Regions from separate parts of the Homo sapiens genome. Here region 2 is linked to region 1. The links come from fine-mapping of genetic effects on gene expression. A gene starts in region 1. The other region holds a variant in brackets. All regions are shown on one strand. Distances are from middle to middle. Region 1 holds the start of PDZD4 (PDZ domain containing 4). Region 2 overlaps PDZD4 (PDZ domain containing 4).

The links. PIP is the estimated chance that this variant, and not a neighbour inherited with it, causes the effect.
Region 2: its variant is the best candidate, but not a certain one, in a credible set for the expression of PDZD4 in testis (GTEx, PIP 0.71).

Annotation. Positions count from the first base shown.
Region 1 is chrX:153,828,077-153,832,449 of GRCh38, forward strand. PDZD4 (PDZ domain containing 4) reads right to left here and starts at 2,468. Exons shown (of 8, transcript NM_001303512.2): 1 at 2,163-2,468. The coding sequence starts at 2,222.
Region 2 is chrX:153,804,763-153,809,135 of GRCh38, forward strand. PDZD4 (PDZ domain containing 4) reads right to left here. Exons shown (of 8, transcript NM_001303512.2): 2 at 3,580-3,833; 3 at 2,517-2,607; 4 at 1,980-2,078; 5 at 1,309-1,371; 6 at 743-844; 7 at 335-445; 8 at 1-138. Among named protein-coding and RNA genes, the nearest start is that of SSR4, 12 kb to the left of the region's middle. The variant T/C (reference allele first, on the strand shown) is at 1,890.

The sequences.
Region 1 (4,373 bases):
GGACAGGGAGAAGTGCCCCCTAAAGATGGGGGAGCACCCGTGTTTAAGGAGGCCGGGAGGCAGGCACGGGGTCCCAGAAGCTGACCTGTCTTTTGGAACAAAAGCTCCTTCTCCTCTGAAGAGGCTGGGACCTGGTGATGCGTCCACCCCCAGAAGCGCAGTCCCCTGGGACAGCTCATGGCTTGCACTGCTTTCCGTATCTACTTTTTTCAGTCCTCTTGTTTTCCCTTAGTTGTGAAGGATGGTTCTCCTCGTAAAATCCCGGCTTTGATTGGGCCAAGGAGGAATGTAGAAAGTGAAAGTTTGCAGCCAAACTCCCACGGTTTCAAAGGGAGCCCAGCAGGAAAGCGCACAGAGGGCGCATGCGGCAGTGGCCCTCCTCCTGGCGGGTCTCCTTGGGGTGGGCAAGTCCCTTCCATGAAGGAGAGCTTAGGGCGCAGAGCAGGGAGGGCCCACCCAAGTTCACCTCCCTGAAGGCAGGCCCAGCCCGACCTGCCGAGGCCTTCCCGGAGGGCTGTGGGGAGCCCCAAGGGCTACCGGTGTCGTCCCATGGCTCATTTCAGGCCTGGGGTGCAGCTCGGGTCGCTCTCCCCTATCCACACGTCCCCACGAGGTTGGCCTTAAATGAAGTGCGACACCAATCCTTCTCCAGGAAAGTCAAAACGGCCCCGGAGGAATCGCTTGGAGAAATCGCTTGCCGTTTGATGGAATGACTCCCGAAAAGGAAGCAGGAGGATGGGATCCAGAGTCCCCGTCAACCAACCATCCCAGCCCTGGAATCCAACACGGATTCCACAGGACGCCCTCTCGGTCGCATTCCTATCCCGCTAGGGGGCTGGCAATGGCCACACAAGGTTTCCAAACAGCGGGAACAAGAGACGAGGAGTGGCAGCCGGGAACTGAGAGGGAAGAAGGCGGAGGACAGCGAACGGGAGAAGCCGAGGGCCCCGCGCACCCCCGGAGAAGGGCCGGGGAGAGAGGACCAGGAGCTCCGCCAGGGTGGGGCAAGATTTGCGTCCCCGCCCTGCCCCTCGGCTCCCGCACCAGGTGGCCAGAGGAGCTCGGCTCACAGCGTGAAGTCAGTCCCCGGATTCCTGGGAATTCTCCCCCGTGCCCAGCCCCTCCTTCCCCCGCCCCCGCCCCCGCCCCGGAGTTCTCGCCGATCCCTGCACGGGTTCCCCCACGTTCTCCCAAGCCAACACCCCTCCTGCAAAGCACTTGATTCCTTCCCAGTCCAGACCAATAAACCCGGGAGTTGAATCCAGGCCACTAAACGCATACCTGTCTGAGCCCTGTCTGCTCCTGGGTGCCTTGACCTTGACCTCCCTCCACTTAGCCCTAGGAGGTCTCAGCCCACAGCATCCGGGACATTTCTCTAGACAGTCTGCAGGGTGCACACAGAAAGTACACAAATGCGGGGCCGGGGGAGCCTCCGCGCACACAGAGACGGGGCACAGGAACGCACTCACGTAGTCACGCCACGCACAGGCAAGAAGCCCCGTTCCGGGCCGCGGGGCTGGGCTCCAGGTCCGAGCTCCGGGCCCCGCGTCTCCTTCCCTCCCCGCGGGGCCCTGCTGGTCCACGCCCCGCAAAGCCCGGCCAGGCACTGCCACCCGCAGAGAGCCCAACCCGCTGATCCCGGCGGCGCCCACTCACCCGAGACGCCTAAGGCCCGGGAGCCCATCGTTCGGGCAGGGCCAGGCGGGAGTGGGTGTCGGGGTGGGCACCCAGCCCCCGGACGGACTTGGACCGCGCCCGGGGACGCCCACGCACTCCCACGCTCCAGGCCCGCCGGGATCTAGATTCGGCGCCCCCCGCACGGCGGGAGCCTGGCTCCCTCCCCCGCCCTGGGTCCTGCGGGGAGAGCGTGTGCGGGGAACTGCGCTCGTTGCTATGCAACCTCCATCCCGCGCCCGCCGCACCGCGCCTCCCGGGACGGAAGCGCGCCCCACCCGGGCCAACCCCAACTTCCCACCCCACCCGTGGCTGGTTCCCACGGAGCGCCAACACCCAACAGCCCCAGGATGGGAGGGTGCGGACGGCTCCCTACCTTGTCCTCCTCGAGCCCTCCCGCTCTCCCACGCCCGCCGCTCCGGGCCTCCCCACTGGCCCGCTCCTCCCCGCGGAGGGCCGCGCCCCCGCCGCAGCGCCGGCGGCCCTACCTGCAGCATCACTTTGTACTGCTCCTCCGGTTTCTGGACCACGCACATATTACATCCCATGTTGCTGGCCGGCGAGAGGAGGCGGAGGGCGGGAACGGGAAGACGCCTTTCACTGACCCGGGCGCGGGACCTCGGGTCCCGGGCCGGGGCCAGGGGCCATACCCTGGCGCGGGGGGCGGGCCGCCTAGCGGGGGAGGGGGGCACGCCCCCGAGGTGGGGGCAGCGGCTCGCCCCTCAGGTTAACTCTTCGCTGGCCGAGGCCAGGCGCGGGCATGCTCCCTCGCACCCGGCCAGGAGAAAAAGGGCAGCGGGGGATGGGCGGGCGCGCCGGGCGTTGCCAGGCTACGGCCCCCCAGGGAGCGCGGGGGCGCGCCGGGCCGCCAGGGGCCGTCAGGGGCCGTGGGCCGCGCGCCTCCCCGCCCGCGGGGCCCGCCGCTGCCGCTGCCGCCTCCGGCTCCTGCCCATGGCCGCCAGCCCCGGGAGCCCGGCCCTCGCGCTCGGCGCCGCGGCCCGGCCCGCGACAGGGGGGCAGCGGCGCGGCGGCGGCCCCCGCCCGCGGCCAGGCCAGCGCCCGCGCTCCCGCCTCGCCCGGCCGCGCTCTCGGAGCTCCCGGCGCCCGCTCTTCGTCCAGCAGCCGCTGGCCGTCTCCAGCTCCCGCCCGGGACGACGGGCACGCGAGCGCGCCCACGGCGGCGGGGGAGGGGCGCGGGCACGGGGCGCACGCGCGCCGGGAGGGGCGGGGAGGGGAGCGGGGCCGGCTGCGGGAGGGAGCGGCGGGGGCGCTGGAGCCGGCGCGGGAAGCCGGGGGCGGGCGCTCGACGGAAGCGGGCGGGGGTCCTAGGCACCCCACGACACCCGGCGTCCGGTCCTGAGGGGCGGGCACCAGGCGCGTTGTCTGCGCGATGCCGCTCTGGGAGAGAGGGGTCCTGCCAGGAGGAGCAGTCTCCTGGGTCCCCCAGAGAGAGTCCGCGATTTCAGCCCCTCTCCCCGGTCTTGGACGCAGCAGCCCTCACGCCTCTGCTCCTTCCTCGGGCTTCGCCTTAAATGACTGCATCCCTCCTTCAACTCAGCCATTCCCTGCTGTCTTTGAAACGGACACCTTTGTTTAAAACAAGAAAGAAAGAGAGAAAGGGAGGAAAGAAAAGAAAGAGAGAAAGAAAAAAGGATGAGCGAAGCGTGGGGAGGGGGTGGGTCGTGGGGAGAGTGGCCTCGGAGGCCTTGGGACCCGGGCCTGCACACAGCACTGGCCAGCCTGGGCCCGCCGCCTACCTGTTCCTCAGCCCCAGCCCTCACCCGGTCCCCGCTTTCACAGCCCTTCCATCTCTTCCTCTTCTCTCCCACCACCTCCCCGTCTTCTTGGACAAGCCTGGAGGGAGAAGGCCTTTGCCTGGAAAGCAGCAGCGGGTGGAAGTCTGCGTTCCCAGAGGCTGCCCCGGCTGCAGGAGATCACTTGGAGAAATTGCTACATGCTTCATTTCCAGGTTTGGGCAAGTGAGGGAACCCCCAGCCACACGGGGCTGTTGAATCGGAGCCCTTCCTTTCCTCCCTGGCTCCTCGTTAGAAGAGAAATCAAGAATGGCGGGCCTGCCCAGAATGTGGAGAAGAGAGGCGAGTTTCTTATCCAGGGCTTCTCCCAGAAAGCAGAACTTGAGACAAGGGCTGGTGTGCAGGTTGCAACCTGCCACCCAATGGCTGGCTAGTCTTGAGGAATGGCGTCATATTGAGGGCTCAGCATCGGTCTCTGCAGCTGGTGGATGGAAGAACATTCACTAGCGGCAGTGTCTAGATGAGCCGTGGTAAGAGGAAGCCCTTGCCGTTGGGCTTATACAGAGCCTCCAGCCCTCCCACCATGGCCACTGGCATCGTGGGTCCATCGCATCCTGGGGAGAAGCTGGCTGACCTCCACCAGATGGTCCCCTCTGTTCGCTAGCTTCTGGCGCGCCCCCTCCACACTGCATGCTCCCCAGCGGCATGGGCGCGAAGACGAGCACGGGGCCCCACACTCTCCCTGAGCACTCCCGTAGGTACCTCTTCGCCAAACCTGTCTCTTCTTCCAATCTTCCTCCACCCGGGTCCCTGACCAGTCAGCCCAGCCATTTTCCACTGCCCGGGGGTCATGGACACCTTCATCTCAGGCCATTTCTCCCTCTACAAAGTAGACAACCTAGTGTCTTGCTCCCCTAGAGGATGTCCCCTCACTGCTGTCTCTCA
Region 2 (4,373 bases), 23 kb before region 1:
GTCCCCCAGCAGGTCGTGCTCAGAGCTCTCTTCGTTCCGGGTGCTCTCGTCAGTCCGGCCCACCCCGCTGTCCAGCTCCTGGCTGTTGCTCAGGCCTGGGCCGGCATCGGGAGCCCCCTTCTCCTCTTCGTTTCCGGGCTAGAGCAGAAAGGTAAGTACCGCTCAGTTAGGTCCCACGGACAGGGATGTCACGGGATGTCACAGGAGGATCGGAAGGGGCTTCAGGCCTGGTTCATTTCCCTGCCAAGCATTGGGAGACCCTGCACAGCCTCAGCGCCTTCCACCCAGTTCTCTCCTCCTCGCCCTCCCCACCAGCGCCCTTTTCCTTCCTCACCTGCTGGGCAGGGGGTGATTTCAGTTTACGAGCACGCAGCTCCCCCTCATTCTCAGAGCCAAAGTCATCCAGGAAGTCATCCCGGTCGCTGTCCTTCCACCTTTTCGCCAGCTGTGGAGACAGGCCCTGGTGTCCCCACAGCTTCAAGGACCTCCCCATATACCCTTCTTGTCTGCTCTGGACCCCGCACTTGGCTTGTTTCGGTGAAGCTCAGCAACCTGGGGGCAGCGTCCCAGCCCCCTCAGCCTTCAGAGGCCAGGAGGGGAAACGGGCCCTGAGAGACCCCTGCCCACCCGCCCTCCATCAACTCCAGGTCGTTGGCACATCTGTGCCCTAGTCACGGCCAGCAGCTTCCAAGACAGAAAGCCTGATGTCGTGGCCCCGGGTCGCCCTGCCAGGCATACACACCTGACTCTCAGGTCGGGCCACCAGCAGGGAGATGTTGGTGTTCTCTTCCTGGCTCAGGATGGCCACCGCCTCTTCCCGGTTCTGGACGTCTACACCGTTAATCTGAGGCAGGCAGGATACAATCAACAAGCATGCTAGGGCTGGCCCTGGGGCGGACCCTGGGCGGGTGCAGGGAGCCCAAGCACTCTGGGCTCGGCTGGGCTAGGCTGGGGCTTGAGCTCTGGGAGGATGTAACTAAGTGGAAGGTACCAGGGAGAGGGCGGCCTGACTCTTGCAAGAGCAAATGTGTGCTCAGGAGAGCATGGAGTGGGGCAGAGGGAGAGGGGCCAGGAGGTTTCAGAGCAGCAGGGGCCCTGGATGCCAGCAGATCCCATAGGCACACGGGAGCCACTGGGGTGAGTGGGCAGGAGAGAGATGAGACTCAGCCCGGGTTTAGGACACGGCAGGCTGCTGGGCCTCAGGGTTAGCTCTTAGTGGGAGAGAGCTAGGGACTGGCTAAAGAGAGGTGGCTGGGCCGACGGGCACAGCGGGGCCTTGGGCCAGGCCTGCAGCCTGCAAGTGCTCACCTGGATGATGCGGTCTCCCTCACGGATCCGGCCGTCTTTGGCTGCAATGCTGTTGGGATTTACCTGCAGGACACACGCATCTTGGGGACTTGGTGCCTAACATGCCCTTTCGGTAGAAGGGGGCAGGCTCACCTCAGGGGCCCCCAAAGCAAGCTGAAGGCTCTCTGGCTCCCCTTCCAGCTCTGAGCCCCAGGAAGCAGAGGCAGAGGCTGTGGAGTAGTCACCTCTCCCCGCCCCTGCCCTGCACTCCTAGGCTCTTCTGCACGGAAGCCTGTGCTTTTGGTCAGCCCCGGGCATTGGTGGGAAGTAGGACATTGTCCATCTGGAAGGGTGGCTTTAGTGGGATGCTACTAGTAGGGAGGGGAGCGAGGGGCCATCCCCCTCCTGGGGATACACAAGACATCTGCCCAAGATGGGTTCGGGAGAAGGCTAGACAGCAACCCTGTTGCTAGTTCTCAGGCCCATCTGCTGTCCCACCCAGGCACAGGCCTCTTTCTGCAGATGACTACCTCACTGGACAGTGGCTGAAGCCGTCGACCATCATCGCCTCACCACGCAGCACCCTAGCTGTGATGCCCTGT[T/C]TCTGGTAGCTGGGACCTTAAGGGCAGCCTCTGAGCCACAGGCAGGCCATGTGGATGGGCCTCGGGGCTGGGGCATACCCGTCTGCATACCTCTCCGACATAAATGCCCAGGTCCTCCTCGTCGTCCGTGCGGTAGCAAACCATCAGGCCCAGCTTGTCCCGGTGGCTGCTTTTATACAGCTCCACCTCCTGCCACGAGGGGTCCGGGAGGAAGCAGAGGTAGAAAGCCCCAGAAATGCGTGAGTGAGGGAGCAGGCAGCACAGCCCAGCCCCTCAGCCCGCAACCCCTCAGCCCGCAGCCCCTCAGCTTCCTCTGGAGCCCCCTGAGCTCAGTTTCCAGGCCCCGCTTTGAGGGTCTCTCTTACCATCCCACGTGGCGCACGTACTCAGTGGTCTCCCTCCCAGGAAATGCACGAGGCACACACAGGCACAGGACACAGAAGACAGACGTGCATGGGACGTGGACTCACCGACATGGACGGAACACGTAACCTCACCCGCACCCTCCCTGACTCAGCCAGATGCGTGCCAGGAGGGCCACGGGGTTGGGCCTGGGCAGGAAGGCACACAGGCGTCGGGGCGGCTCCCGCAGCTGGCTGCGGGCCCTGGCCTGGCCACCCGGCTCACCTCATACTCCAGCTCATCCAAGCGGTCTGCCTCCTGCGGGCCGCCCTCCATAAACTCCGCCGGGTCATAATACTCATGGCTGATTGGGGGGCTGCCCAGGAGAAGGTGGGGGTCAGACCAGCTGGCCATCCTCTCACACCTCAGCCCCAGCTCCCAGGCAGGCCGATCCCAGCGTGCCTGGCACGGAGGCCTGCTCTGCTTGTGCTCTCAAGGGTGGGTGGCCCAGTTGCCTCCTGCAGAGCCCCTTCCTGGGCAACATGCAGCCATGCAAAGACCGGGGGCACTTCTCGCACCTGAGTGTGCAGCGTCCACGCAGAGGACCTGCGCATGCCTCTAGCGTTCCCGTCCCCCAGACCAGAACTCCTCCAACCACGCCAGCTGGCAGGGACCAACTTCTCCAATCTCCGGGTGCCCACCCGCCCGCCCAGCACTGGCCCCACTCATGCAACGCCCCCAGGAGTTATCCAGGCCCTGGAGGACTTCTGCAGAGCAGAGGGGGGCCCACCCTACCTCCAGGGGCTGCCCTCCTGGCCCCAAAACTAAGGTTGGCTGCTCATGGCCCTGTGGCCTACCTCCCCGCAGCCCGGGCTAAGATTAGCAGAATGAGGCAGCGCTCACGCGGTCATGAGCCACCAGGCCTGGATGAAAGGCCCTTCTTCCGGTCGGGCCAAAGAAAGAAGCTGAAGAGATGGAGGAAATTCAGAGCAGGTAGAGGAATGAGACAGACAAGGGATGCAAGAAGATTCAAGGAGTGATGCTTGTGAGGCGGCAGAGGAGAGAGGATGGAGGAGGAGGAGCTGAGGCCCTCAACCCTGGCACTTCCGGCAGCGACGTCCCGGACAGGAGGGTCCTCCCTCGGCCCTGGGGGTAGATACAACGGGGCGCCTGCTGGAGCCCGGCCCAAGGCTAGAGGCCTGGAGGTTTTGGAGCCCTTGGGTACCACGGTCAGTTCTGGAGGCCGAGGGGCCTGCTTCCTGCCCGAGAGGGTGGCGTGCGGATGGCCGCTCCAGGTGGCCTGTCCTCTCTGGAGGCAGGGCCCGGGGCCCTCCTGAGGGCGACTCACAGCTCAGAGAGGACGTACGGCTCCAGGATGACCATGGGCGGGGTGGGCGGACGCAGCTTGCCCAGCGCCATGATATGCTCGAAGGTGATGTCGGTCTGAGTGCCACTGTCCACCAGCTGCAGGTCGTGACAGGAGCTGTCCCCCCGGAGGCGGGGGCTGCGTCTCAGCACCTGGATCACCAGGGGCTCCTTGGAGGAGCGCAGGGCCTGCAGAGTTTGCTCCTGAGACAGCTTGGAGAGCTCCTTCCCGTTCACCTGCGGCAGAGACACGCCTCCGTAAGAACCCTCAAAGGCTTGCTCCTCCCCTCTGAGGTCAAGGCAGAGGCCCTAGCTGGCAGGACCTGGGCTGACAACCAGCACCCCAAGCCACTCAAGCAAGGAATCTGCTGTCTGCAGCCCTGGCTACCTTTGGTGCCCCTGTTCCCAGGCAAGCCCCACTGCTCAGCCTTCATCCCACTGAAGGCCAGCTGGGGATCACCAAGTCACACCAAGGACTGGGGGACCCAGCCTCTGTGCACTGGGTCTGGAGGCTGTGATACCGCCCTACAACGTCCTCCAGACACTGCTTGAGCTCTCCTGGCCTCTCCCCATCCGGACCCACTTCTTTCTAGGGCGGCACTGAGGCCAGAGCTAGCATGAAGATCCCATTGAGTTCCTTGGCAATGACTGGACCATAACAGCCAACACTCAGTGAGCATCTGTGTTGTGCTCATTCAGCATCAAGCAAGAGGATGACCTTGACTCTTCAGATGAGCCGAGTCTCTCAACAAATGTCTACTCACTAGGGAGGGCCAG